7 linked regions of the Homo sapiens genome follow. The protein of the gene in region 1 purifies or fractionates together with the protein of each later gene. This does not show direct contact. Each region holds a gene or a part of one and is shown in the gene's direction. Other genes may lie near its edges.

Region 1 (3,500 bases):
ATTCTGGTATCCACTCTTCATTCATGTTTATTGAGCATCTGGGCTGCCCCAGGTATCCTGGAAGCCGCCTGGGAAGGCGCAGTCTCCAGCCAGACTGACCGAGCAGCTGCTGTCCCCCACTGCAGGTCGCTGCGGAGGAGCTTTGCTGTCTGCTAGGCCAGGTCTTCCAGGTTGTTTACACGGAGTCCACCATCGACTTTCTGGACAGAGCGATATTTGATGGGGCCTCTACCCCGACCCACCACCTGTCCCTGCACAGCGGTATGTTGAGTGAGAGTGGGCAGCGGGTGGGAGCAGGGACAGGAGGGGCTACTGCAGTGGCCCCCAGCTCCCCATGAGTTACTCCTGGAATAGCGCAGTTACTGCCGTGACATGGTGGCCTTTTGTTTCCAGACTTTGCTGTTCACATTAGCCCATAGGGTTTCATGAAGGCAGAAGTGTCACCTGTCCTTGAGAGAGTTGCACCAGGTCAGCGCTATGGCTTCCTGGAATAAATTTGGGGTCTGTGAACACTTTTTTGGAACCACTTGTGGCTAAAGTCACTTCACTTAACTCGGAACAAAGAGCTTGGAGAAGGCTCCTAGCACTGGGGCCTGTGATGGAATTGGGGAGGCTGAGAGTGGGTCTGGGGAGCCTCCTTTTCAGTATGCCCAGACTATGGCTGCTCTTAATGTGAAACTCCTTCCAGGACCATGGCCAGACCCATGGGAAGCTGCTCAGGCTGCCCTGGGAGGCCAGCTGGCAGTGGTGGAGCAGTGGCAGATGGGGAAGAATGGAAGGTACCCCAGAGCTGTCTCTTCCTGCATGGCCCACACAGCATTTTCAGGAGTCTGTTAGTCCATTGAAAACACTTCATCAGCAAGCTCACTTGAGTTAAGTCTTCAAAAACATCATCTGTTTTTCAGATGTATTACTTATTGAGGATTAATGGGTTATATAAATTGAGGTGCATAAAAAGCTGTTGGAGGCTGGGTGTGGTGGCTCATGCCTGTAATCCCAGCACTTTGGGAGGCTGAGGCGGGCGGATCACCTGAGGTCGGGAGTTCAAGACCAGCCTGACCAACATGGAGAAACCCTGTCTCTACTAAAAAATACCAAGAAAAAAAAAAAGGCTGTTGGAAACAGTGCGGCTTGTTGAGTACAATTTCTTCTTTTTACGGAGATAAGTCCCAGCCCTCTGCCCTTTCCCCAGTAACTCGCACATCTCAGTGAAGAGAGTAAATGGTGGAGAAGCCTGTGCTGGTGTGAGGGCTGCTCCTCAGTGCCTCCTTCTTCCCTTTCTTGCTGCTGGTGCCAGAGCCCTTTGTGGGCACTACACGCCTTGTGTTGGCCCAGCAGCTGCAGAGAGACAGCTGCTGAGCTCTCAGGCATCCTCTCTATCTCATTTAGTCCTCGGTGGCCCAGCGAGATAGGTGCAATCTTCATCCCCATTTTAGAGATGGGGAAGTGGAGGCTTAGAAGTCAACAGCTTATCCAGAGGAATGTACCATATGAGTAGCAGATGATTTATCGAGCTGTAATTAAACATTCAGTTTTAGTGCGACTGGTTTGGCCCTTGTGCTTTAAAATTCCCAAAGGGCCTTTTTTTCTTTAATAATTTTTTTTTTACTGAGAAGTACACAAGTCATACATGTACAGTTGAATGAATTTTCATAAAGTAAACACATCATGTAACACCACTACTGGGGGTTGCTGAAGTGGGCTTCTTCCCCTGCCAGCCTTTCCCAAGACCTCCCCGTGGGATCCACACACAGATGTGCACACGTTACGCACATGCATGCATTCTCTGCTTATTTCTGCCTTGGAGTTTTGCTTGCTGTGTTCTCTCTACTACAGCTATGCCAAAACATAGCAGCATAAACAGCAGAAATATATTCTCTTATAATTCTATACGTTAAGAGTCCATTGTGGGTCCCACTGGGCTAAAGTTGAGGTGTCCACAGGGCTGGTTCCTTCTGGAGGCTCCAGAGAAGAAGCCATTTCCTTGTCTTTCCAGCTCCTAAAGGCGGCTGCATGCCTTGGCTCATGGCCCTTCCTCTGTCTTCACAGCCAGCCACGTGACCTCTTCCACAGTCACATCTTCCTTTGACTGTCAGCTTCCTCTGCATTTCAGGACTCTTGCAATCACATTGAGCCCACCCAAATTCTCCAGGGTCATCTCCCTATTTCAAGGTCAGCTGATAAGCATCCTTTACTCCCCTTTGAAATTGGTAACATATTCACCAATTCCAGGGATTAGGATGTGGACGTCTTTGGGGGGTCATTATTCTGCCCTCCATACTTACCTTGTTCCTAGTGCCAGAAATGTCCCTTTTATCTCTCAGCCTCTCCCTCTGCTTCATTTAAAATCTTACCCTCTCTGCAACACTCACCTGCCTCGCTCACAAAGCTTTCACTCACTGTCTGTGCTGGTGTGAAATGTGCCTTCCTCAGGTTTGAAATAGCAAATTACAGTCTGTGTCACACGGACCTAATGTCATTTGTTGAATGTAGCTGCTCAGTGCCAGACCCTTTGCTGGTCTGAGGGTCTTGGGAATCCTGTGGCTTCACTGGGTTCAGATGGGGAGTCAGACTGCCCGGCTCTGACTGTGGTTTCTGCTGTGTGACCTGGGCCAAGTTGTGTAACTCTCTGACTTACTTCCTAATCTACAAGTGAAGACAGGGGTGATATATGCCTGGGTTAAAGGAGACAAAGCCCCAGTAACCCTGCCTGGCACATGAGTGATACCTCAAAGACAGCTTTTGCTGGCTCTGGCCATGGGTGAATGTGTACTTCAGCCCAGCGTGCAGCAGGATTTGCATTTGCCAGGATCCCCAGGAGGGGTGTATGTGGGCTCAAGTCTGGGAAGCCCTGCCCTGAGGCACACAGCACATTCCAGAGTGCGGGCAGCTTGATGAAGGACAGCAGGGTCCCTGAAGACCAGGGCTGCCGCTGTCTCCTGTAAATACAGCAGTGGGCTGGACTCAAAATGCCTCCCCACTATGTCCCTGAAAGTCATCTTAGTTTTCTGCATCTTCCTTACAGATGACTCTTCTACAAAAGTGGACATTAAGGAGACCTACGAGGTGGAAGCCAGCACTTTGTGAGTGCACATGCCACCAAGCCCTGCGGTGGGACACGCACCAAATGCGTTGTCTGGTGTTGTCCAGGCTGCAGCCAGTCAGCTCCCCCATCTCAGCTCACCCTCGCTAAGCCATCCCCAGACCCACTGTACCCAGCTTAGTGAATGGCTGAGGCCTGGCTCGCCGCCCTCTCCTCGTAGACTTCTAGAGCCCTTGCTGTCCCTCTTGTCTCTCCCTGCCTACCTTCCCATGGCCTCCCAAGAGTGAGCTTGTAATAGGCATGTTGGATGGAGCTGTTCCCCTGCCCGAGCCTGCCGAGGCGCTGGCCTTCCAGCCCATCTCTGCCACCACCTGGGGCTCTGTAGTAGTTCACCCACTCGCGCTCTCCATTCCTGCCACCTCCCCAACCCTGGCTCCTTCCCCTGCCCAACAATGCT
Region 2 (3,500 bases), on another chromosome or scaffold:
TAGGTTAATGACACAGTGTTGAACTAAACAAAGATGAAGTCAAGTTGCTAAGCTCTTGTCTGGCATTGATTAGGGGGCTCATAAAATAAGTCACTCCCTCAGTTTAGTCTTGACAACCCAAAGAAAAACTTTGTGTACACTGAATGACACTTTCCTTGAAAAACTTCCAAATAGGATAAGGTTGATTTTCACATCGTTCTTGCCAGATAGGAAAAGCACAGCATCAACTCCAGGGAATTGCTAAATATTTGTGCTACCCCAGGCATATTGCAAAGATGATGAGACCTGAACAATGATGTTAGCATTAAAGTGTTAATGATGACTGCAGTCAACAAAGAAACTGCAGGATGAGTGGGCCTCAAACAAGAAAATCTGATGACAAGAGACCATGCAGGTAAGACTTAGAGAAGTGGACCAAGATTCAGACCAGGAAAATACCATAGCAACCCCCAAGGATCTCCATGGGTGGGAACATTTGGTGGTTCTCTTCCATTTTACCACGTTTGTACATAGCTCTGTTTATTTATGTTGTTTCCCCAACCTGCTACTCAGCCTAATTCTATAATTTCTTTTTGTTTCTAGTTCCTTCTTTCTGGGGATTGGTGAACTCAGCTTGGAATCTTTGCTCTGTGGGGAAACGGCAGTCGCCAGTCAACATAGAGACCAGTCACATGATCTTCGACCCCTTTCTGACACCTCTTCGCATCAACACGGGGGGCAGGAAGGTAAGCCACCATATTGCTTCCATGGTAAAGTTGAAGATGGGGCCATCTTGATTCTGAAAGCTAATCCTCAAGGCTTCAGTCTCTGTGATGAGTTTGTCCTCCCACCTAGGAATACCACAGACTTCAGACCTGCCGCCATTAGATAGAAATATGTCTAAATTGTGCTTTTTCTCCCTAACTAGTCAAACTTTTGTGCTTCTGATTACTCTGTACCTCCTGGAGGTTGCCTGAAGTCTTATCAGACAACCTTGGTACCCCCATAAAGGACAGAAAGCATAGTGGCCACCCCTGCCTATCATGCTGGGAAAATCTTTCCTCTAAGAAACTGCTTTACTAGGCCTTCTTTTAACCTCAGTGAAGTGAGAAAACCAATTAACAAAAATAAAATCAGACGTTCATCATCTTGGGAGGAAAAAAACAGACAAAAATCACCTTAGATGATTTATAAGAAAATCAATAATTAATCTTCCTAGGGGCATCTTGCTTGCTAAGAATCCTAGCTCCTGCACAGAAATGCTGAGCTGGGCTTTGTGATTCTCACACCTAAATCCCTCCTTCACTCTCCTCCCCCCATAACGAGCTCCTCTTTAATTTGTGGAAGGGCACAAGTGCCCATTGGGTCTTCTCATCACTGGAATCTTAGCACTTCTCTTGCTGGTTCATGTCTACTTGGCTATCTTTTACTGTTGAGTAGGTTGTTAAAGGTAAAAAAAAAATGCACATGCAGAAAATTGTGTTCAAAGGTAATTTAGCTATTGTTAAGAGAAATGGAAAATAATTTGTGTGCAAAAAATTGAGGTTAAAATTATTGACAACTTTTGATAATACCAGCGGCTGATTCTTCAGGGTTTGGGTCATTGGGCTCTGTTCTCTCTTCCTTTGTGCAGTCTGTTCACCATAAATACCATGAAGTTTGTAAGTTAACTTTTTCCCCTTCTGATGTATTGAAATATATTTTCTTGTACCATGTAACTGTCACAGATACACACACCCCTAATGACTCATCAAAAAGCTGTAAGTGACTTTGACTCAGGTCACAAAGCAGGTTTTAAAAGACATTGCATGTGGTCGACACCATTTAGTTATGCAGTATTTGTGTACTGTTTTAAATATGACTTGAGAAGCATTTTTGTGGAAAGGTCATATATAGGTCATTTAGTTTATTGCTCTGATTCCATATAAAACGATGCTATCCTAATTATTGTTCCATTTATAGTTTTATTTTTATAAATTCTGCAAGGAGCTTGTCATGGCTTCTAAGTACATTTCTCTTTAAAAAGGTGAATTATTTATTTAAAGTCGTGAACACGTGTGAGTTCGCTGGTCAGTATTTAAGAAGGAAAAGTTGTAGTTATGATTAAATATTCAGTCATTCTTTCTTTCTTGGAGAGGGTGATGTAGGGGATAATTGCATTCTAGGCAAAAGGAAAAGCAGGGGGTGGAAAAGCCCAAGATACAGAATGGGGTTTGGTGCCTGAGTTCCAGAATGCAGCTGAAAGGTAGCCAGCAAGGCTGAACACAGGGAGCGAAGAGAGGCTTGCAAGATGGTAGGCTAGAGAGGACAGCAGAGGGCAGGTCCTGAGGCAGTGTTCGGGAGCTGAATCCTTCGCCTACGAGTTATGGCAAGCATTTGAAGGGGTTTTAGATAAAGTACAGATTGGGATTGAGATGGAAAATGTGTCAAACTAACACAAACAATGGATATATAATTTTTACTTTCCATCAGAATGTCTTAAAGGAAAAATGTTGATGTGAAAGAAAAAAATGTCAACACAGCTTCTCCCTAAAATTTATTGGGAAAGAAGAGATTGGGAGATAGTCTAGTGTTAAAAATCACTCACATGTTATGACTTGGGTTTTTTTTTGTTTTAGAGATATTTTTTGAACAGATGATTTTGTATCTTTCCAATTCAGGAAAGTATACCTGATCCAAACCAATTTTCAAATGCATTGGAGTTTGGAATCTTGGCAACATTTACTTTTCATGATGTAAATATTTATATCTGGCACAATTTTTGTTGTCAGTGGTTTGAAGAGCTGAGAACTGTCTGATGGTTCCTTTTGCATTTGTGAAAGGTAGAAAATAAAATATAGTTGGTCGTGATAAACTAATTGGTAATGAAATGCCTTAATTTGCTAGGCAATAGGTAAATCATGTTTGTATCACATTTTGAAGGTGATGTTTAATGAGTTGGAAACTTGTTTTGAAAGTGAGAATTCAAATCACTGCTCTGATTTTTGTTTTCCCTTAAAGAAATACCCAACTTAATCGATTTGAAAATCACCCTGTAAGACTGGGAAGTTTTGTTGAATTTGGGCAAGATGTCACATTTTGAAGTCTGAGCCAAGCTGGGTGTCAGTACGTGAAATGCAGCCTAGTAACTACATGTTTTGTGTCGCATTTTTATCCACAAGCATTATTCTTTCTGGTGTTCAAGTGTATCTTATGCACAAAACTGTGATGCAGCTCTCTGGAAGCCCCTGACTTGCGTTACTATGTTTATTTTAACATATTTGACCTGACATTGGGCTCAAATGAAGGAACAAGGGCTTTCCTTACCATAGTTTAAGGCTAAAATTCAACCTCAGTACAAGAATAGCAAGGAATAATAGTTATTCCTTCTCATCCTATGCACTGTGCCTTGAGTGTAATAGAAAATATTCATTTTTATTTAAAAATGAGATTTATTTCACCTTTTAGCCTCATGTGACAGGTTGCAGTCAAAATGCAGTTCAAACTGTGTTTCATGCAAAAAGTTATTTAAAATATTGTAT
Region 3 (3,500 bases), on another chromosome or scaffold:
ATTGGTGTAGTTAGATTCTTATATTCAATGGAATTTGGAAAATATTTTTTATTTTATTATGTAAATAGCAGCCAGTGTTTATGCATTTAGCTTTAAGCTTTGATTTCTTTTTATCAACATGGCATATCTTTGATACTGACATTTGCAGAGTTTCTGCTACCTATTTATGGCTAAACTAAGCTTTGTCTAGTATGTGAGATTGTAACGAGAGAATGAAAATGAAAATTTAAAGAACAGCAATTTAGACTTTTCTGATGTTTTAGGATGGGTGGATTGCTTAAGATAAGCATTTCCACCGGATGTGGTGGCTCATGCCTGTATCTCAGCACTTTGGGAAACAGTGGGTCACTTGAGCTCAGGACAAAAAATTTAAGTTACCTGAGTGTGTTGGTACATGCCTATAGTCCCAGCTTCTCCAGAGGCTGAGGCAGAAGGATTGTTGGAATGTGGGAGGTTGAGGCTGCAGTGAGCCATGATGGTTGGTGCCACTGTACTGCAGCCTGAGTGACAGAGTGAGACTCTGTCTCAAAAAAAAATTTCATAGTTGTTTTTATTTTCACTGATGCATTATAGCAAGAAAGCATTAACAGAAGTAGTATGTGAAACTGTTTATGGATCAAAATCAGTGACCCCCCAGGCTGCTTAGTTTTCTTTTCAAAAGACAATTGATTTGACACTTGCTTTTAGCTTTAGAGAGGTTTTAGAATTGTAAGTATAGGCTTTTACAATGGAGGAGGTTGTAGGAAAAATGGAGGAGGCCGTAGGAAAAATTTGAACATTTTTACTTCTTAGTCTATTAAAATTACCTGTAAACATCTGATGTAGGAAGTTAGGAAAGATGCCAAGACATACTAAATTGATGTGAAGAGGGAAACTATATATGTATATAACTAAAATAATTAATCCCCAGGTGAATTGTTTCTGGCCACTTCAAAAAATTGTTTTTATGTTGGAAAGAATACACTCTTCTGAAGGTAATGTAGTTTCTGACATCATGCTAAATATATAGTATGCGCTGAATAAACAGGAACATATGGTGTGTTTCAATCATGAATTTAAACACTTGATGCATTTCAGTCATGGATTTAAAGGTATTTGATGGGTTTGAGTTGCAATTATTATCCTTTTTGACGGTCAAGTTGTCTCCCATTTGGTCAGTGGTAGCCTTTTCCAGTTGGCTCCAGAGTCCTTTTGACGTGACCTTAGTAGTTTTTGATAGTATCCTTATTCTCTGGTATAAGAATATGTTCCAAGCTCATTTCCTGCCCCAGATGTGAATCAGATATTTCTCAAGAAGACCTGCCTTTTAGTGGGAAATGGCATTTCAAGACTACAATCTTGGTGGTAGAGAAGTTTATTATTACTCAGCTACATAAAATACTAAGACTTGCAATTCAGAATGAGGAATACAGCGTTTTAAAAAGTTTTTTTTTTGTTTAGGTAAAATATACTTATATAATTTACTGGCCAGGTGCAGTGATTCATGTCTGTAATCCCAGAACTTTGAGAGGCTGAGGCAGGTGGCCCAGGGTCACTTGAGCCCAGGAGTTCGAGACCAGCCTGGGCAACATGGTGAAACCCGTCTTTACAAAAAATATAAAAAATTAGCCTAACGTGGTGGCATGCGCCTGTAGTCCCAGCTACTCCCAGCTACTTGGGAGGAGGAGGTAGGAGGATCACCTGAGCCTGGGAGGTTGAGGCTGCAGTGAGCCGTGATTGTGCCACAGCACTCCAGTCTGGGCAACAGAGTAAGACCTTGTCTCAAACACACACATGCACACTTGCACACTTATGTAATTTACCATCTTTACCATTTTAGTTTTCTTTCTTCTTTTTTTTTATTTTTTTGAGATGGAGTCTCGCCCTATGCCACACTGGATCGTAGTGGCGCGATCTCGGCTCACTTCATCCCCCACCTCCTGAGTTCAAGCGATTCTCCTGCCTCAGCCTCCTGAGTAGCTGGGACTACAGGCACACACAACTAATTATTGTGTTTTTAGTAGAGACAGGGTTTCACCATGTTGGCCAGGATGATCTCTATCTCTTGACCTCGTGATCCACCTGCCTTGGCCTCCCAAACTGCTGGGATTACAGGCGTGAACCATCGCCCCCGGCCCCATCTTTAGCATTTTAAGTGTACAGTTTGGTGGTAATAAATACATGTATATTCTTTTTTCTCCCCTTTTATCTCTCCTGTTCCTTGCTCAGTCTCTAGTAATCATCAGTCTTTAGACTCTTACCTTTGTGAGATCCACTGTTGTAGCTCCCACATATGTGAAAACGTGATGTTTGTCTTTCTGTGCTTGACTTAACTTCACTTAACATAATGGCCTATAGTTCCATCCATGTTGTTGCAAATGACAGGATCTAATTCTTTTTTATTGCTGAATAATATACCACATTTTCTTTTCCATTGATGGGAACTCAGGTTGGTTCCTTGTTTTAAAAAAATGTATTTTTGAGGCAAGGTCTTGCTGTTGCCCAGGCTTTAGTGCAGCAACTCAGTCATAGCTCACTGCAACCTCAAACTCTTAGGCTCAAGGGATCCTCTTGCCTCAGCCTCCTGAATAGCTAGGACTTACAGATAGGGTACATGCCACGATGCCTGGCTAATTTATAATTTTTTTTGTAGAGACAAAGTCTTGCTATGTTGCCTAGGCTGATCTCCAACTCCTGGCCTTAAGCAATCCTCCCAGAGTGCAAAGATTACAAAGCATGAGCCATTGCACTGAGCTGGTTTCATATTTTGGCTGTTGTGAATAGTGCTGCAGTAAACATGGGAGTGCACAGGGATTTTTCTTTTCTTTTCTTTTCTTTTCTTTTCTTTTTTTTTTTTTTTTTTTTTTTTTGAGACGGAGTCTCGCTCTGTCACCCAGGCTGGAGTGCAGTGGCGCGATCTCGGCTCGCTACAACCTCTGCCTCCTGGGTTCAAGCGATTTTCCTGCCTCAGCCTCGTGAGTAGCTGGGATTACAGGCATGCGCCACCACGCCTGGCTAATTTTTTTGTATTTTTAGTAGAGATGGGGTTTCACTGTGTTAGCCAGGATGGTCTCGATCTCCTGACCTCGTGATCCATCCACCTTGGCCTCCCAAAGTGCTGGGATTACAGGTGTGAACCACTGCGCCTGGCCCAGGGTTTTTATAACTTTTTGCATACCAGGAATCCTGGTTCTCTCAAGAACACAGGCAGGGTATGATAGAATCAGGATGTCTTGTAATTACTGATTGTAACCAACATTACACATCAGAAAGTCTAAAATAATAATGCGAATATTACTGCCACCAATATAATTACTAGGAATGTTAAATTTTTTTTTTTTTACATATTCTCTATTTCTAGCCCCCATTTAAAAGTTTTTCTGTCTCCCTTGTCTGAGCATATTGCTATTACGTAACTTTCCCTTTTGTTTTTTTTTTTTGAGACAGAGTCTCACTCTGTTGCCCAGGCTGGAGTGCAGTGGTGCGATCACAGCTCACCGCAACCTCTGCCTCTTGGGTTC
Region 4 (4,038 bases), on another chromosome or scaffold:
TGCAATTTTTTTGTAGTTTTAAGTGTACAAGTCATTTACATTTTTGGTCAGATTTATCCCTAAGACTTTAATATTTTTAGTGATATTTTAAATTGCACTGTTCTTAGTTTCAACTTTCATTTGTTGAAATTAACTTCCAGTCCACCCTAGGACTACCATTAGCTGAAACACTGCCTCTTCTAATATATAAACATACAATTGATTTGTGTATTGATCTCTTACTCTGCAATCTTGCTAACCTCAATTATTGTAGAAGCTTTTTTATAGATTGACTTTTCTACATATACTTTCATGTAGTCTTTGACAAAAGACACTTTTACTTCTCCCCTTCCAAACTGAATGCATTTTTCTTTTTGCACTGGACACAATCTTCAGTACAAAGTATAACTATGCCCATACTGGTGCACATGTGGGTCTTAGATTGTAGCATCCTGCATGTAAACACTGAGAACAACTTCCAGCACTTGAATATCCACTCCTTCCCCCACCCACATACTGGCAGAATTCATGTTGGGAGACTACATTTACTATGAAAATACACCCCTCATTTGAAACAAGACTAGGATACACAGTAAAGAATGTTTATTCACTAAAATTTTGACAGACTGAAGGCCATTATTGCAGATTGGAAATAGGAAATTTAAAAGAACTACACGGACATTGAGTAAAATAACATGGGTTGAAATTTGCCTGGCAGTAGCCTAAAAGTAAATGGTCTTCAAGGTGCATATGAAGGAACTGTAGGAGGGAAATGGGATAATTAATTATTAATTATTAAATGTAACTAGTAATTAATAACTAATAATTAAATGTAGCCACACTAGCTTGGGGGATTTGAGGTGAGACATCTAAAATACTAAGTCATGGTGAGGGCTGGAAGACAAAAGAATGAATCACTTCATAGGAATGGCTGTGGGGAAGGGCTTGAAGGAATCATCCTCTGACTTCCATGTGAACCATGAACATTAAACATGGAGAAATGAGGAGCGGCGGCAGATCGGTTTGGGATGCATCTTCAGGGGATGCTGAAACAACAACCGCATTTGGTTTCCTCTACATCCCTGTCACCCCTCCCCCACAAGCCCAAGGAGTGGTCAGCAGTGGGGCTTTGTGATGTCAAAGCCACCTTAGGACCGCCATTGGCTGGGACACTGCCTGTATGATCAAACAAAGCTCAAGGGTGTGGCTTTGCCTTGTCACCAGGAGGGTATATATAGGGAGGGCAAGAGCTCTGGGACATCCCACTGGGAAGCTTCAACATAGCTGTGGAAGTCTGCAGTCTACAGGAGCCTACTATAGACATTCTACAACCAACCAGAATCATGGAACAGCCAACTTCCAGCACCAATGGGGAGAAGACGAAGAGCCCCTGTGAATCCAATAACAAAAAAAATGATGAGGTAAGATTGTCAGGTTTTGAAGGGAAGGTGAGGGTGAAAGAAAGACACACAGAGAGGGGGTGGCTCAAACAGCAACACAGGAATACTGCAGACACCTGTGGAAGTGGGGGACCCGCTTAATGCCAGAGCCCACCGCTGCTTACAGGCTGGGGTGCTTGTAGGTAGGGGTGGGAGGGGCCTGGGCAGTATGGCTTGCTGCCCGGCAGGATATTGATAAGATGTTTTTATGATCAGGCTGTTTGGTCCTTTTTCCAGTGGGATGTCATTGTGGTGTATCTTGAAACTTTGCCCAGCAAGATATGATAGGAAAGTTTCTTTAGTTGGACCTTTGTCCGTCTTGTGTTACGACGATTAGGCAAGATTTTTCTCATGGCCCGAACCCCCGTGGAATGTTTCACTTTGACCAAGGTCTGAAAAATAGCAGGGTGCTTACTAAATGGTGGTTTGGACTCACATTCTTGCCTTCTACTTTAGTATAAAAGGAAGAGGGGCATTGTTGATTATCTGGCTGCTTCCTGCCGAATAGGGGAGCTGTAATCAGGGTTTGGGTTTTGAAGCAGTGGGTGTTGGACTTCAGAGTTGTTTTCCTGGAGGCACTGGTACTGGACTTGGCAGAGGAGAAGGATGGTATCAATGTGTTGCTGGGTGGCCGCCTGGACAGGGGAGTTTAGCCTTCGGGAGATAAAGCGGGATATGAAGGTAAATATACATGGGCCAATTGTAGTATTAGGAGGAGGAAAATTAAGGGTCCTAAGAAAGGGGCCCCCTGCTATCTCAGTGCTGACTGCAGCAGAGATGTTTACTTCTGCTAACACTAGAATGAGATGTAGAGCCTGCTTAGTGTGTGTGGAGGAAGATGAGACAGAAGCTACTAAAGGAACCTGGATGGTCTGCTTGTTAGGCAAAATGTTAATGTTTAGGCTGAAACACCAGGGTGTATGTTCCTGACCATTTGGCCAGTAGGCAGAGATAAGAGTTTGTGGCACAAAAGAAGAAGACACTGGGGGTGGACAGACAAAAGTTGTAGGTTATGGTGGCAAGCCATGAGAAGGTGGGTGTTGAATTCTGCAGAAATTCTTTGTTTTAACTTTTATATTTTTCCAAGTTGAATAGCTGCCAGCAAGGGTAGCCCCTCTGACGGCCTGATAGGAAATGTTGGTGGTGGAGGAGATGGAGGCTGTTTGGTTTTGGAAAGAGAGGGGGAAATGGGTTTTTGTAACTAATAGCCATTGTAGCCCTGACAGGGCAGAAGGATATAGGTTGCACTTGAGGGAATTGTTTGTGCATGTTTTCCAGCGAGCGCCCTTGAGTTGGATAATATGAAGAGCGGCTCCAGCCAAGAGGGGAGGGGTTTCTAAAAGGTGTTTTATGGAATCCGTTTGTAACATATTCAGTTAAGAGGCTATGAGGCGAGGGAGGGTGACAGCCCTGTATGTGATGGTGTGGGTGGATTTGATGGATTGGGGGAAAAAGAGTTTAGCTGATCAAGATTATAAACAGGTTTGGGAATGAACTGGTCAAGTAGGTGAGATGCAGGCTTATTTTGGACCGAGTTCATGTGGCCAGGTTGACAGGAAGGGCTGTGAATTGCTGGATTTGTGTGGACAAACAAGTTTAACAGTTGGAAGGAAGAGGGGAGTGTGACTGATTTAAGAGGAAAGGTGTGAGGCTGATGAAGGGGGCTCAACTGTCAGAGGTTGGGGGTGGGGACTTAGAGTATCCCACAGACAAAGAGGACAAAAGAAGAAAGAGGAGATTTGAGTAGGAGTGAAATTTTGGAAGGTGCCCTGCAGTCATACCTCCTGGATTAGTATGACGAATTGGCATGGACTATTCAGGGACATGGGGAAGGGTAGCCAGGAAAGATCTGAAATAAAGTAGGAGATAAAAGATTGGAAATTGGAGACAGAGAGTGTTATGGACTAAGGTGTTCTGGATTGGCAACTTCTGGAATTCTTGTTAAGTACAGTGAGGTTGGTCCTGTCGGGGAAGGAGAATAATATGGGGGTGAGGAAATTTCTAGATGTGGGTCTGGTGCTCTTTTTAGTTTGGAATGGTGTATTCAGTGTGGAAAGGATGTTAGCTTTGCCCCAGTCGGAGTAGTTAGGATAACCTGGTGGGAACATTTCCGCTTAGGTTGGAAAGGGGAGGAGGAGGAGTCTGTGATTCAGACCCAGTCCCCTGGTTGTAGGGACAGGGCGGAGTATTTTGAGGATGGACTTTTAGGCTGGGTCAAGTAAGCATTTGTGTACTGTCTTATTAGATGTTGGGTGAGGTGTAACGCCGGCCAAGTATTCCATATAGAATGGGGGGAAAATACAGGGAGATTCTGGAGGATAAAAGGGCATTTGTACATGAGTTTAAATGGGCTTAGGCTGAGGAGCTTTTGGGAAATGACTCATAAATGCATGAGGAACAATGGGAGAAGTGAAGTCCAGGCCATTTTAACCTTTAGGGAAGATTGGTCAGTTGCTGTTTTCTAAAAAAGTTTCCCTGAAGATTCGGGGTGGTAAGGAATATGCAAAGCCAATTTAATGTTTACAGCCTTTACCAGCTGTTGGTTAAACTGTGAAACAAATTGGCCCGTTGTCTGACTGGATGCAAGAGGGGAGTTTAAACCGGTGGATAATATGGGTGA
Region 5 (3,500 bases), on another chromosome or scaffold:
ATTCTCAGCAGAGCACTTAGCACCAACTATTATTTTTCCTTGTTAAATTAATTACTTTTTCCCAGCAGTAGACTGTAAGAGCTCCATGTGAGCAGGTATTTTGTTTGTCTTGTTTGCTTTAGTTTCAGGGCCTAGAGTAGTATCTGGATACAGCGAAGGCACTCATTAAGTATTTGTTAGTTAACCAATTAATTATTAATATTTCGTAGTCACACCTTGAAGACCTCAACCTAGGAGATCTTTATCAAAAGAACCTTGATCTGCTGGCAGATTTGTCAAACTCCTGTCCAGGCTTTTGACAGATTTGGCAAATGCCGCTTTTCTCTTTTCAAAATTACATTAGTAGTCCTTGTAAAACTGTGTCTAACATTTTATTGTAACCATATTTGGATTTAATTTTATAAATTACGTTTGGAAAGAGGACAAGAGACTCTTTGTAAATAAGCCTGTAATTTTTACTGGTGACAGCTTTTGTCACCTAGAATCAATGTGCTTATTCTTTTTGAGATTGCTGAAATGAGCTTTGTAAATATTTTTGTTGTAATATCATTTTATGGTATATTCTTCAAATTATATTGCTTTATCCATGGTGAATTCCTTCTGGAAATGGAGTAGGGGAGCACCTTGGATCTTTTCTTTAAACCCAAGTACCCAGGTTTTTTTGTTCTGTGTTTTTTCTATTTTCACACCAAAGTTAAACCTTTACAGTATTAGTTTTACATATAGACAGTCTTGCATTGTAGATGTTGTAAGGCATTGTCTCTACATATAAAATTCAGACTTGGAATATTTGTAGGAGATGTTAATAACACACAACAGAGGATCGACTTCTGGGCATGTTGTTTTCATAATCATTCGTCAAGCTCTCATGCTTAGCCTTGTTTTAGACACTGTACCAGAATTAGAGGGAAAAAACATAATCAGCTTACATTACAGGATTTACACATTGATGTGGTTCAGTCAAAATGCAAATAGTATTGACAGATATTCAGGGGCAAAACACAGGGGCAGGATGAATTTAAAAAGCAAGGGGAAGGAAAGAAGAAAGAGGAGGGAGAAAAATGACTATGTTATTAGTCATTGCTCTACACTTGAAGGCTGTAACAGATGGACACTTAGATAACCTTCATGGTCTGGTTTAATTTACTGCATATAATTTCCACAGTTCTTTCAGATGATTAAATGAGTGGTTCTTGACAACAATTACGAACATTTAAAGGTGGAAATTTATGCATATTTCCCTAAATTGCATGTCAGGTAGTTCCTGCTATAATTTTGCTAAATGTCCATGAATCTCTTGAAAAATACAACTCATAAATGTGGAAGGCCTATACATAACTTCCATTTCCTCCCTCAGATTCAATAATAATATATCATTTTGTGGCACAAATCTTTTTTTCTTTTTTTCTTTTTCTTTTTTTTTTTTTTTTTTTGAGACAGAGTTTTGCTCTTGTCCCCCAGGCTGGAGTGCAGTGGCGCAATCTTGGCACACTGCAACCTCCGCCTCCTGAGTTGAAGCGATTCTCCTGCCTCAGCCTCCTAAGTAGCTGGGACTACAGGTGCATGCCACCATGCCTGGCTAATTTTTTGTATTTTTAGTAGAGGGGGGTTTCACCACGTTAGGCAGGATGGTCTTGATCTCCTGTCCTCATGATCCGCCTGCCTCCGCCTCCCAAAGTGCTAGGATTTACAGGTGTGAGCCACGGAGCCCGGCCCAGCACAAGTCTTTTATCTGTTGTTAATCTGATGTTATTTAGTGGAACACTTCAGATGCATTCATAGAATTATACATTTTACTAAATATATCACAGCTTGAAATATAGTTTCCCCATTTTTATCAGCTTTCATAGAATTCTTAATTGATTTTTAAATGGCTAATATTGCTTATAAAAAGTAGTTGATCAAGCTCTTAAATTCCTATTTCTGAGTTCCTTGTTCTAGTTCACACTAGACCAGAGGTCAGCAAACTTTTTTCATATAAATCCAGATAATAAATATTTTAGGTTGTGTGGGTCCAGTCATCACCGTCATAACTGCTGTTGCAGTGTAAAAGCAGTCATAGAAAATAAATGTGTAAACGAATGAGTATGGCTGTGTTCCAATAAAATTTTATTTATGGACAACAATATTTGAATTTTATGTAATTTTCACGTCACAAAATAGTCTTATTTTGATTGTTTTTCAACTTTCACAGTGGGTTGAATTTGGCCTGTGAACCGCAGTTTGCAAACGCTGCCCCAAACTCAAAGTCACATCGTGAATTGTATGTCACGTGTCTTCAGGAGAAGAAATTTGAAACAAATCCAGAGAGAATTGTGTTTTACCTTAGTTACTCCGTTACTTAGTAGTTATCAGCTATGTATTAGACCAGTCACATATCTGTTAAAATCAGATATTTGATTCTAAAATATCTCAAGATTAGTTCAGAAACCTTGAAGGTAAATAAATGAAGGACCAGGAAAAGACTTCAGCTTAAAAGTATCAGGTTTTTAACATTTTTGTTACAAATTGGATTTGTTTTCACTCACTTGGATTTTTATCTGCTTACTTTGAAACAGTTCATCAGGTGAAATCACTCTAGAATTATTAGGTCAGCTTCTTTTATTTTCATTTTTCTTCAGAGGCCACACTTCTGCGGAAACAACATGCCCAGGAGGAAAGATGCTTTATATTTCAGTTGTGTTACATATAGGTCAGACATTACTGTTTTGAACTCCAAATAGTATTCTCACTTTATAGTTGTATTTGCATTTTTATTATATTATTAATACATATTGCTTGAAACAAGCATGGTTTTTGGTTGTCAATCCTTTTGTTAAAATATAACTTTATTTATTGTTATTATTTTGAGACAGAGTCTCACTCTGTCACCAAGGCTATAGTGCAGTGGCATGATCTTGGCCTACTGCACCCTCTGCCTCCCAGACTCAAGCGATTCTCGTGCCTCAGCCTCCTGAGTAGCTGGGATTACAGCCATGCACCACCAAGCCCAGCTAATTTTTGTGTTTTTAATAGAGATGGAATTTCGCCATGTTGACCAGACTGGCCTCAAACTCCTGGCCTCATGTGATCTGCCCGCCTTGGCCTCCCAAAGTGCTGGGATTACAGGTGTGAGTCACCGCACCCGGCAAATGTAACTTTACTTTGAAGACTTTTGTCTTAATGGGATTAGAACTGCATTACCATTTAAAGATGAGTTTCTGCTGGTTCCCATAGAAGTGTCAACATTTTTCTACGCAAATTTTTTCTTTTTTTAATTTGAGACGGAGTTTTGCTCTTACTGCCCAGGCTGGAGTGCAATGGCGCAATCTCGGCTCACTGCAACCTCCGCCTCCCAGGTTCAAGCAGATTCTTCTGCCTCAGCCTCCGGAGTAGCTGGGATTACAGGCATGCGCCACCATGCCCGGCTAATTTTGCATTTTTAGTAGAGACGAGGTTTCTCCACGTTGGTGAAGCTGGTCTCGAACTCCCAACCTCAGGTGATCCACCGCCTCGGACTC
Region 6 (3,500 bases), on another chromosome or scaffold:
TCAAGCAATTCTCCTGCCTCAGCCTCCTGAGTAGCTGGGATTACAGGCATGAGCCGCCACGCCCAGATAATTTTTTTGTATTAGAGATGGGGTTTCACCATGCTGGCCAGGCTGGTCTCGAACTCCTGACCTCAAGTGATCCACCTGCCTCGGCCTCCCAAAGTGCTAGAATTACAGGCGTGAGCCACCACGCCCGGCCAAGTTTAGTTTTTGAACAAAAAGGGAGAAAGGAAGAAACCAGAGAAGAATTGAGGTGCGCTCCCTTGGACTCCCCCTTCCCTACAGGTCCCTTCCTCCCCAGCAGGGCAGCCTCTGCCTGTCCCCCGCCTCTTGTGACCGGCGCTGTCTGCCCTCTGTCCCCGCCCTGGCCCCACAGCACTCTCGAGTGGACCCTGAGGAGCTCTTCACCAAGCTCGACCGCATTGGCAAGGGCTCGTTTGGGGAGGTCTACAAGGGCATCGATAACCACACAAAGGAGGTGGTGGCCATCAAGATCATCGACCTGGAGGAGGCCGAGGATGAGATCGAGGACATCCAGCAGGAGATCACTGTCCTCAGTCAGTGCGACAGCCCCTACATCACCCGCTACTTTGGCTCCTACCTAAAGGTGCCTGTTGTGGGGAGGCGGGGACCCTGCTGGTGCTGTGCCCGGCTCTCTTCCATGTCAGAGGGACTGAGTGACATGCCAGAGGGTGCAAGGCGGTCTTGACGGTTCAGTGCATGCCCTCCGGGAAACTGCCCTGGGCAGGCAGGGTGTGAGCCCTCGTCCACGAGGGTCAGTTGGCTCTAAATGGCCATTGGGACCCACTTGCCTGCCTGTGGTAATGCAGTGAGGGCGCTGCTAGGAGCACTCTGGGGGGCCCCTACTGGCAGTGGTGAGTGGGCCTGTGAGGAGCAGGTGGCTGGTGGTGCCAGTGTCTGGGGTGTAGGGAACGCTGTGGCCATCCTGCCCAGGAGGGTGATGGGTGTGTCGGGTCACATGCTTGCCAGCCATGCCCTCTTCCCAGCCCTGTAGGACTGGATCAGCAGCCTGGTTTTTGATGGGGTCTTGGTGAAGTGGAGTCAGCCACTGCTGTGTGTACTCAACCTGTCCTCTGAGCATCTGTAGCAGTAGTGTGGCAGGAGGGGAAGATGGGCAAGGCCGAGAGAGCCCTTTCCTGTTCAGGGTTCTTGGCAGGGATGGGACCGGTGGGGCCTGGGCCCTGGCTGACTCCGGCCTGTGACTCCCACCCTGGAGCATGCCCTTCCTCTTGCTGCCAAATGCTGATGGGTTTGTCTCCGGTCCCAGAGCACCAAGCTATGGATCATCATGGAGTACCTGGGCGGCGGCTCAGCACTGGACTTGGTGAGGCATAGGCCATGGCAGTGGGGGGTCATGCAGTGTCCGAGTCCCCTGCCCCTCAGACTCATGGGCTCCAGGGGCCACCTCTCGTTTGGTGTCATGGCACGTTAGGTGTTAATTAGGAATCGTCTAAAGCAAAAATGAACTGCCATCTGCACGTCTGCCCAGTTGGTGCTGAAAGGGGTCCTGGCCTGTGGGAGTGGGCGGGGGCAGGCCTGCTGGGAGATGGCTGGGAGCCTATTTTTCTGTTACATGACAGTAAGGTGAGGCTGGTTTATATGCTTTAGAAAGAGCCTCCACCACCCCACTCCCATCTGAAACTTAGTTCTGTTTGGGAAGTAAAGGAACACGAAGCCCCCAGCTATCTGCAGGGACAGCCCTTCCCTGTGAGAGAGGCAGAGAACTCAGGCATTGGGCCTGGGACAGGAGCTGAGGCCCTGCTGTCGCACCTTCCTCTCCAGCTTAAACCAGGTCCCCTGGAGGAGACATACATTGCCACGATCCTGCGGGAGATTCTGAAGGGCCTGGATTATCTGCACTCCGAACGCAAGATCCACCGAGACATCAAAGGTCCTGCTGGGGGTGGATGTGGCTCTTGTAACGTCCTGAGCCCCACTGACCTTAGAGAGGCCGGGGCCTGTGAGGGGCAAGTGGCTAGTGGTGCCCAGGGTCTGGAGTATAGAGAACCTTGTGGCCACCCTGAAACTGAGCAGTCCTGTCTCGCTCCCTTTCCAGAAGATACTACTTGTAACGGTTTCCTTGTACGCTGAGGAAACCAGCTGTGGACTGAGTGTAGGAAAGGGCCACACTTGGCTGGAGTTGTTGGTTCCCTGTGGTGCACGGCACAGCAGCAGGTGTAGAATTGAGTAGCCCCAGCGTGTGGTCTGGCCCTGCTGAGAGCAGACGGGAGGCTGGGCCAGCCCATGGGGAGGGACTTGCCACTGGCAACGAGCCATCTCTGTCATGTAGGGGACGATTCTGGTGGAGCAGGGGGCTTCCTGGCAGGCCCGTGTTGGCTACACCCTTGGTCAGGGTCACCTCTGCGGTAGCCCCCAGTGGGCGAAGTCGCTTGTCGTTGGGATTTGTCGTAAAAGCCAAATGCAGGAAGAGCCCTGGAGCTCGGAGTGGAGCCGTTGGGCTCCTGCTGGCAGTGCCCCTGTGGCCCTAGGTGGCCCTGGGTTTGAGAGTGGCAAGGAGGGCTGAGGTCCTGAGGACAGCCCTGCTGTGCCCTAGGAGGCCAGGTGGATGGTACCCTGGCCCTTCTCAGGGGGCCCGGGGTGGAGCCACGTGGAGCCTGGGATGACGCCTGCCTGTCCTGTGTCAAGCAGCTGCCAACGTGCTACTCTCGGAGCAGGGTGACGTGAAGCTGGCGGACTTTGGGGTAGCAGGGCAGCTCACAGACACGCAGATTAAGAGGAACACATTCGTGGGCACCCCCTTCTGGATGGCACCTGAGGTCATCAAGCAGTCGGCCTACGACTTCAAGGTGGGTGCAGCGGGCGGGCAGGTGCGGGCACCATGCCTGGCTCGGGTGCTCAGGGCAGCAACAGTCCTTGTGTTCTGTCCAGGCTGACATCTGGTCCCTGGGGATCACAGCCATCGAGCTGGCCAAGGGGGAGCCTCCAAACTCTGACCTCCACCCCATGCGCGTCCTGTTCCTGATTCCCAAGAACAGCCCACCCACACTGGAGGGCCAGCACAGCAAGCCCTTCAAGGAGTTCGTGGAGGCCTGCCTCAACAAAGACCCCCGATTCGTAAGGCCCGCCTCTGGCCCGGTCCCTTCTAGACAGGACGTGGAGGGAGGGCGTTCGCTTGGGGTGGGCGGCACAGCCCGGAGGCCCAGGCCCACCAGCCTTGTAGCTGTGAGGGCCCGCCCCGGTCCAGGCTGCCTCACGTTTGCTTCCCTTAGGCAGAGCTTGGCTGGGCCCAGTGACTAGTGTTCCCCTGACCCCCTGCAGCGGCCCACGGCCAAGGAGCTCCTGAAGCACAAGTTCATCACACGCTACACCAAGAAGACCTCCTTCCTCACGGAGCTCATCGACCGCTATAAGCGCTGGAAGTCAGAGGGGCATGGCGAGGAGTCCAGCTCTGAGGACTCTGACATGTAGGGACCTGGTTTATCCTCATGGTGACCCTAGGTGCTGTGACGTGGGTGGTC
Region 7 (3,500 bases), on another chromosome or scaffold:
TATTAGGTGCTGAAGATATAAAAGTGAACAAACTCACTACTGCTGTCAAGGCACTCACAGTCCAGTTTTGCACTGAAATGATGCCAATTTTATGGTTAAAGTATGTACAAGGTATAGATGATGCACAAATTAGTAAGTAGTCACTTCTGTCCTTTTCAGGAGTGGCATGAATAAAAGGCCTCCAAAAGGAGGTGATAATGCTAGTAATTTCTATCCAATTTCAGCATTTACATCTAAGTGTTAGCTATTACTGTATTTTACTACATACATAATTATTTGCTCCTTTGTGTGATAATTTTGCTGTCATATTTGTTCCTAAAAAGCTAATTCAGCCCATCATATTCTTTTTTAGAGATCTCATGAGTGATTACGCAGTCTCAGTAGTTTTAGGTTCTCCTCCTAATTCCCATACAATTCCTTGGTGGTACATGTGTGTGTGTGCGTGTGTGTGTATGTGTGTGTGTGTGTGTGTGTGTCTGTGTGTGTATCATTTGCTCATTCTGGTTTACTCTTTCTGGACTGAATCCCGGTATTTCCAGACTCACTCTAGGGCAAAACTGAATCCTTGCTACTTTTAGGCACCTGTGACAAAAACACTATTTTTGGTTGCTGACCTAAAATATTAAATACGCCCTATTTAAAATGGCTATTCCATAATATATTGAAAATTGGTACTGATATGGTTTGACAATTTTATTGGTTGCTTATTTATTCATATTCAATACTCCCATGGAAAATGAGTGACAGCTCTATCTTCTTTTCCTAAGATTTCATATAGAGTGTTTTTTAAGTTGCACAGTAGTATACATGTACTAGTCACCCAGTATTTACTTAATCTTTAAATAATTAAAAACTAGTTTTTTGTTTGTCCCAAATTTTGATTGTAAAGTGTACTCAGACCAGCCAGTGCTACAAAACCATCGTCCAAGATAGCTTCTTAAGGGATTAAATCAAATTATTTTTATCTCCTTCACCCATCATTAACTAAACTCTATGATATAAAACACTACTTTGAAGAACATGTTGCTTCATGATAAAATTGTAGAAATGTGCAGCTGGCTTATGTTGATTATTTGTGTTCTGAATCTATTTAAAGTAAATAAATCTGTGTGTATATACATATGTCTTGAGACATATGTATATACACACAGAGAAAGAAATATTCTATAATCTTACAACGTTTTCATACCATGTATTTAAATCACTTTCTTAAATTGACCAACTCATTTATTTTCCATTTATATTACAACATAGTATGACTGTGTGGGTTTGTATTTTTTTCTAAACTAAAATCACGTCAAATATAACAGGATTCTGTTTCATGTAGTCAACATAAGTCAAGGCCACATCCTCTTTGTGCCATCAGGGAACTGTGTTATCAGTCAACTTACATACTTATTGTGGCCCATTGTTCCATTTCAGGTGACATGGAGGATTTTGTGAGTCAAGTTAATTGAGCAAACTGGGAAATGGGTTGTTCTTACACAGGATGTCATCCATAACTAAGACCTCACTGTAAGCTGGAGGAAAAGTTTATTACATTTGAGAGAAAATTATATGTTCTTTGAAACTGTATGCAGTTGTAGTGATTTCCTTGAGACATGCAAAAAATGTACTAGGTATTCATTTTGACTAAGCTCACTGTATAACTTCATTTTTGAAAACAAGAGTTAAAAACCAGACAAACACATCAGTATGACCACAGTGTTTTCCTTTAATTTTAGTTCACTGGGCAGATTTTCTTGACAAAGTTAGTCTTTATGAAGAGTGCTAAAATAAGCAAACCCTTCCCTTCTGATCTCATAATATTGGAATAATCTTTTATAATCTTTAAATATTTTTCTAGTTCAGTGTAAATCTTAAAATGACACTCAGGCATTGAATAGAATTTGAATCATGCCTTTATTTGCTGCTGAAAATTGCCTTTAGATTTCTGTGTATGTTAAGGAAATATTGCCTCCCACCCACCATCACCAGTATTTATGAAAAAAAAAAGAATTGAATGAAGTAAAATATTTCAGAATCATCTGTACGGCTTTGTGGCCTTCTCCTTATTTTTCACTGAAACTGTATGTGCTTACAGCCAGTTTATGTATGCTCAATGCCTCTGGAATATTCTTTTATTGTTAACATTTGTTTTGGAGTTCTCTTATAAAACTTGAAGAAAATGGAGGCTAGAAAGTTTGTTCCTTCTTAAAATGTTCTTTTCTCAAAATAGGAATAGCTTTAAACTTAATATAATACACCTCTAAGAAGCCCCATGTTAGATTCAATTCAACAGACGCTTATTTATTAATGCCTACTATGTGTATTCCTCTTCTTTTGCATATTGTGGTTAATCTCATCTACTTTCGTCTGACAACTTCTAAACTGATGTCTCTGGTTTCATCCTCTCTGCTCAGCCCCAGATATGTGTTTATAACTTGCTTCATATTAATAGCCTGCTTATCTGTGAGTACATCAAGTGCAATAACCCTCAAACTAGGGAGGTAGCATTTGAACTAAGTCTTGAGAATGATTTTGATAGGGGTTGGAAGGTGCAAGTGGGGTAGGGACACAGCATTCCAAGCTGGAGGAAAATGACTCAGAAGTGGTAAATTTTCTAGCCATATTCTTGGCAAGATGATCTCTACTGTCACTTCCAGTTTTATAAAGTCTTATGTGCTGTATGTTTTTTTTAATCAGGCAAAATATACTTAACACTAAATTTGCCATTTTAAGTGTACAGCTCTCTGGCATTGGCTACATTCACATTGATTTTGTGTTTTTTTTGTTTGTTTGTTTTTTGGGTGGTTTTTTTTTTGTTTTGTTTTTTTGTTTTGCTTTTTTTTTGTGACAGGGTCTCACTCTGTCTCCCGAGCTGGAGTACAGTGGCGCAGTCTTGGCCCACTGCAGCCTCCACCTCCCAGGTTCAATTGATCCTCCCACCTCAGCCTCCCGAGTAGCTGGGACTACAGGCATATGCCACCACACCTGGCTACTTTTTTGCACTTTTTGTAGAGATGAGGACTCCCTATGTTGCCTAGACTGCTCTCAGACTCCTGGACTCAAGCGATCCTCCCACCTCGGCCTCCCAAAATACCAGGATTACAGGCGTGTTGTGCAGCCCTCACCACCACTGATTTCCAGAACAAATAAGGATTCCTTATTTTCAGATCTAGAAATTGAGTAGTTGTAATTTTAATGCTTAATGGTATATACTACTTTGTAAAGTCACATTTCAAGCTTTCTATGAACACGTTTTACTGACAGACAGTTGGCAAGTTTCTGTTTTGAATTAGTACAAACAAAAAGGCACACATTGTTTTTAACTTGGAAAACAGGTGCTTTCATTCATGCAGAACTGCAAAATAGGCAGGCATGTTTTATAAGATCTTTTTCTTTTAAATGTCAGGTGAATGGGAAGCTCTCTGAATTCATATGATAGAGTATAGTACTTGTTAGAAACAAACTTGTGGCAGAAGAAACAATTTTTAACCTATCCACCATTGTAAGAACCA

Evidence for each region.
Region 2: the proteins of CCM2 (region 1) and CA10 purify together in Homo sapiens (co-immunoprecipitation; one large-scale study listed by IntAct). This does not show direct contact.
Region 3: the proteins of CCM2 (region 1) and PPP4R2 purify together in Homo sapiens (co-immunoprecipitation; one large-scale study listed by IntAct). This does not show direct contact.
Region 4: the proteins of CCM2 (region 1) and SPANXN3 purify together in Homo sapiens (co-immunoprecipitation; one large-scale study listed by IntAct). This does not show direct contact.
Region 5: the proteins of CCM2 (region 1) and CMSS1 purify together in Homo sapiens (affinity purification with mass spectrometry; one large-scale study listed by BioGRID and IntAct). This does not show direct contact.
Region 6: the proteins of CCM2 (region 1) and STK25 purify together in Homo sapiens (co-immunoprecipitation; one study listed by IntAct). This does not show direct contact.
Region 7: the proteins of CCM2 (region 1) and STK26 purify together in Homo sapiens (affinity purification with mass spectrometry; 2 studies listed by BioGRID and IntAct, with this or other methods). This does not show direct contact.

The regions. Positions count from the first base shown.
Region 1 is NC_000007.14:45,069,701-45,073,200, forward strand, and holds part of CCM2 (cerebral cavernous malformations 2 protein), read left to right. Parts: intron 1-125; coding exon 126-261; intron 262-688; coding exon of another isoform or gene 689-837; exon of another isoform or gene 838-2,049; coding exon of another isoform or gene 2,050-2,172; intron 2,173-3,025; coding exon 3,026-3,083; intron 3,084-3,500. UniProt on the Homo sapiens protein: Component of the CCM signaling pathway which is a crucial regulator of heart and vessel formation and integrity. May act through the stabilization of endothelial cell junctions. May function as a scaffold protein for MAP2K3-MAP3K3 signaling.
Region 2 is NC_000017.11:51,928,215-51,931,714, reverse strand, and holds part of CA10 (carbonic anhydrase-related protein 10 precursor), read left to right. Parts: intron 1-582; coding exon 583-725; intron 726-3,500. UniProt on the Homo sapiens protein: Does not have a catalytic activity.
Region 3 is NC_000003.12:72,999,811-73,003,310, forward strand, and holds part of PPP4R2 (serine/threonine-protein phosphatase 4 regulatory subunit 2), read left to right. Parts: intron 1-3,500. UniProt on the Homo sapiens protein: Regulatory subunit of serine/threonine-protein phosphatase 4 (PP4). May regulate the activity of PPP4C at centrosomal microtubule organizing centers.
Region 4 is NC_000023.11:143,514,676-143,518,713, reverse strand, and holds the start of SPANXN3 (sperm protein associated with the nucleus on the X chromosome N3), read left to right. Parts: upstream 1-1,238; 5' UTR 1,239-1,322; coding exon 1,323-1,400; intron 1,401-1,819; exon of another isoform or gene 1,820-2,024; coding exon of another isoform or gene 2,025-2,099; intron 2,100-4,038.
Region 5 is NC_000003.12:99,824,362-99,827,861, forward strand, and holds part of CMSS1 (protein CMSS1), read left to right. Parts: intron 1-3,500.
Region 6 is NC_000002.12:241,498,585-241,502,084, reverse strand, and holds part of STK25 (serine/threonine-protein kinase 25), read left to right. Parts: intron 1-376; coding exon 377-607; intron 608-1,288; coding exon 1,289-1,345; intron 1,346-1,803; coding exon 1,804-1,912; intron 1,913-2,670; coding exon 2,671-2,828; intron 2,829-2,910; coding exon 2,911-3,096; intron 3,097-3,300; coding exon 3,301-3,446; intron 3,447-3,500. UniProt on the Homo sapiens protein: Oxidant stress-activated serine/threonine kinase that may play a role in the response to environmental stress.
Region 7 is NC_000023.11:132,057,802-132,061,301, forward strand, and holds part of STK26 (serine/threonine-protein kinase 26), read left to right. Parts: intron 1-3,500. UniProt on the Homo sapiens protein: Serine/threonine-protein kinase that acts as a mediator of cell growth. Modulates apoptosis. In association with STK24 negatively regulates Golgi reorientation in polarized cell migration upon RHO activation.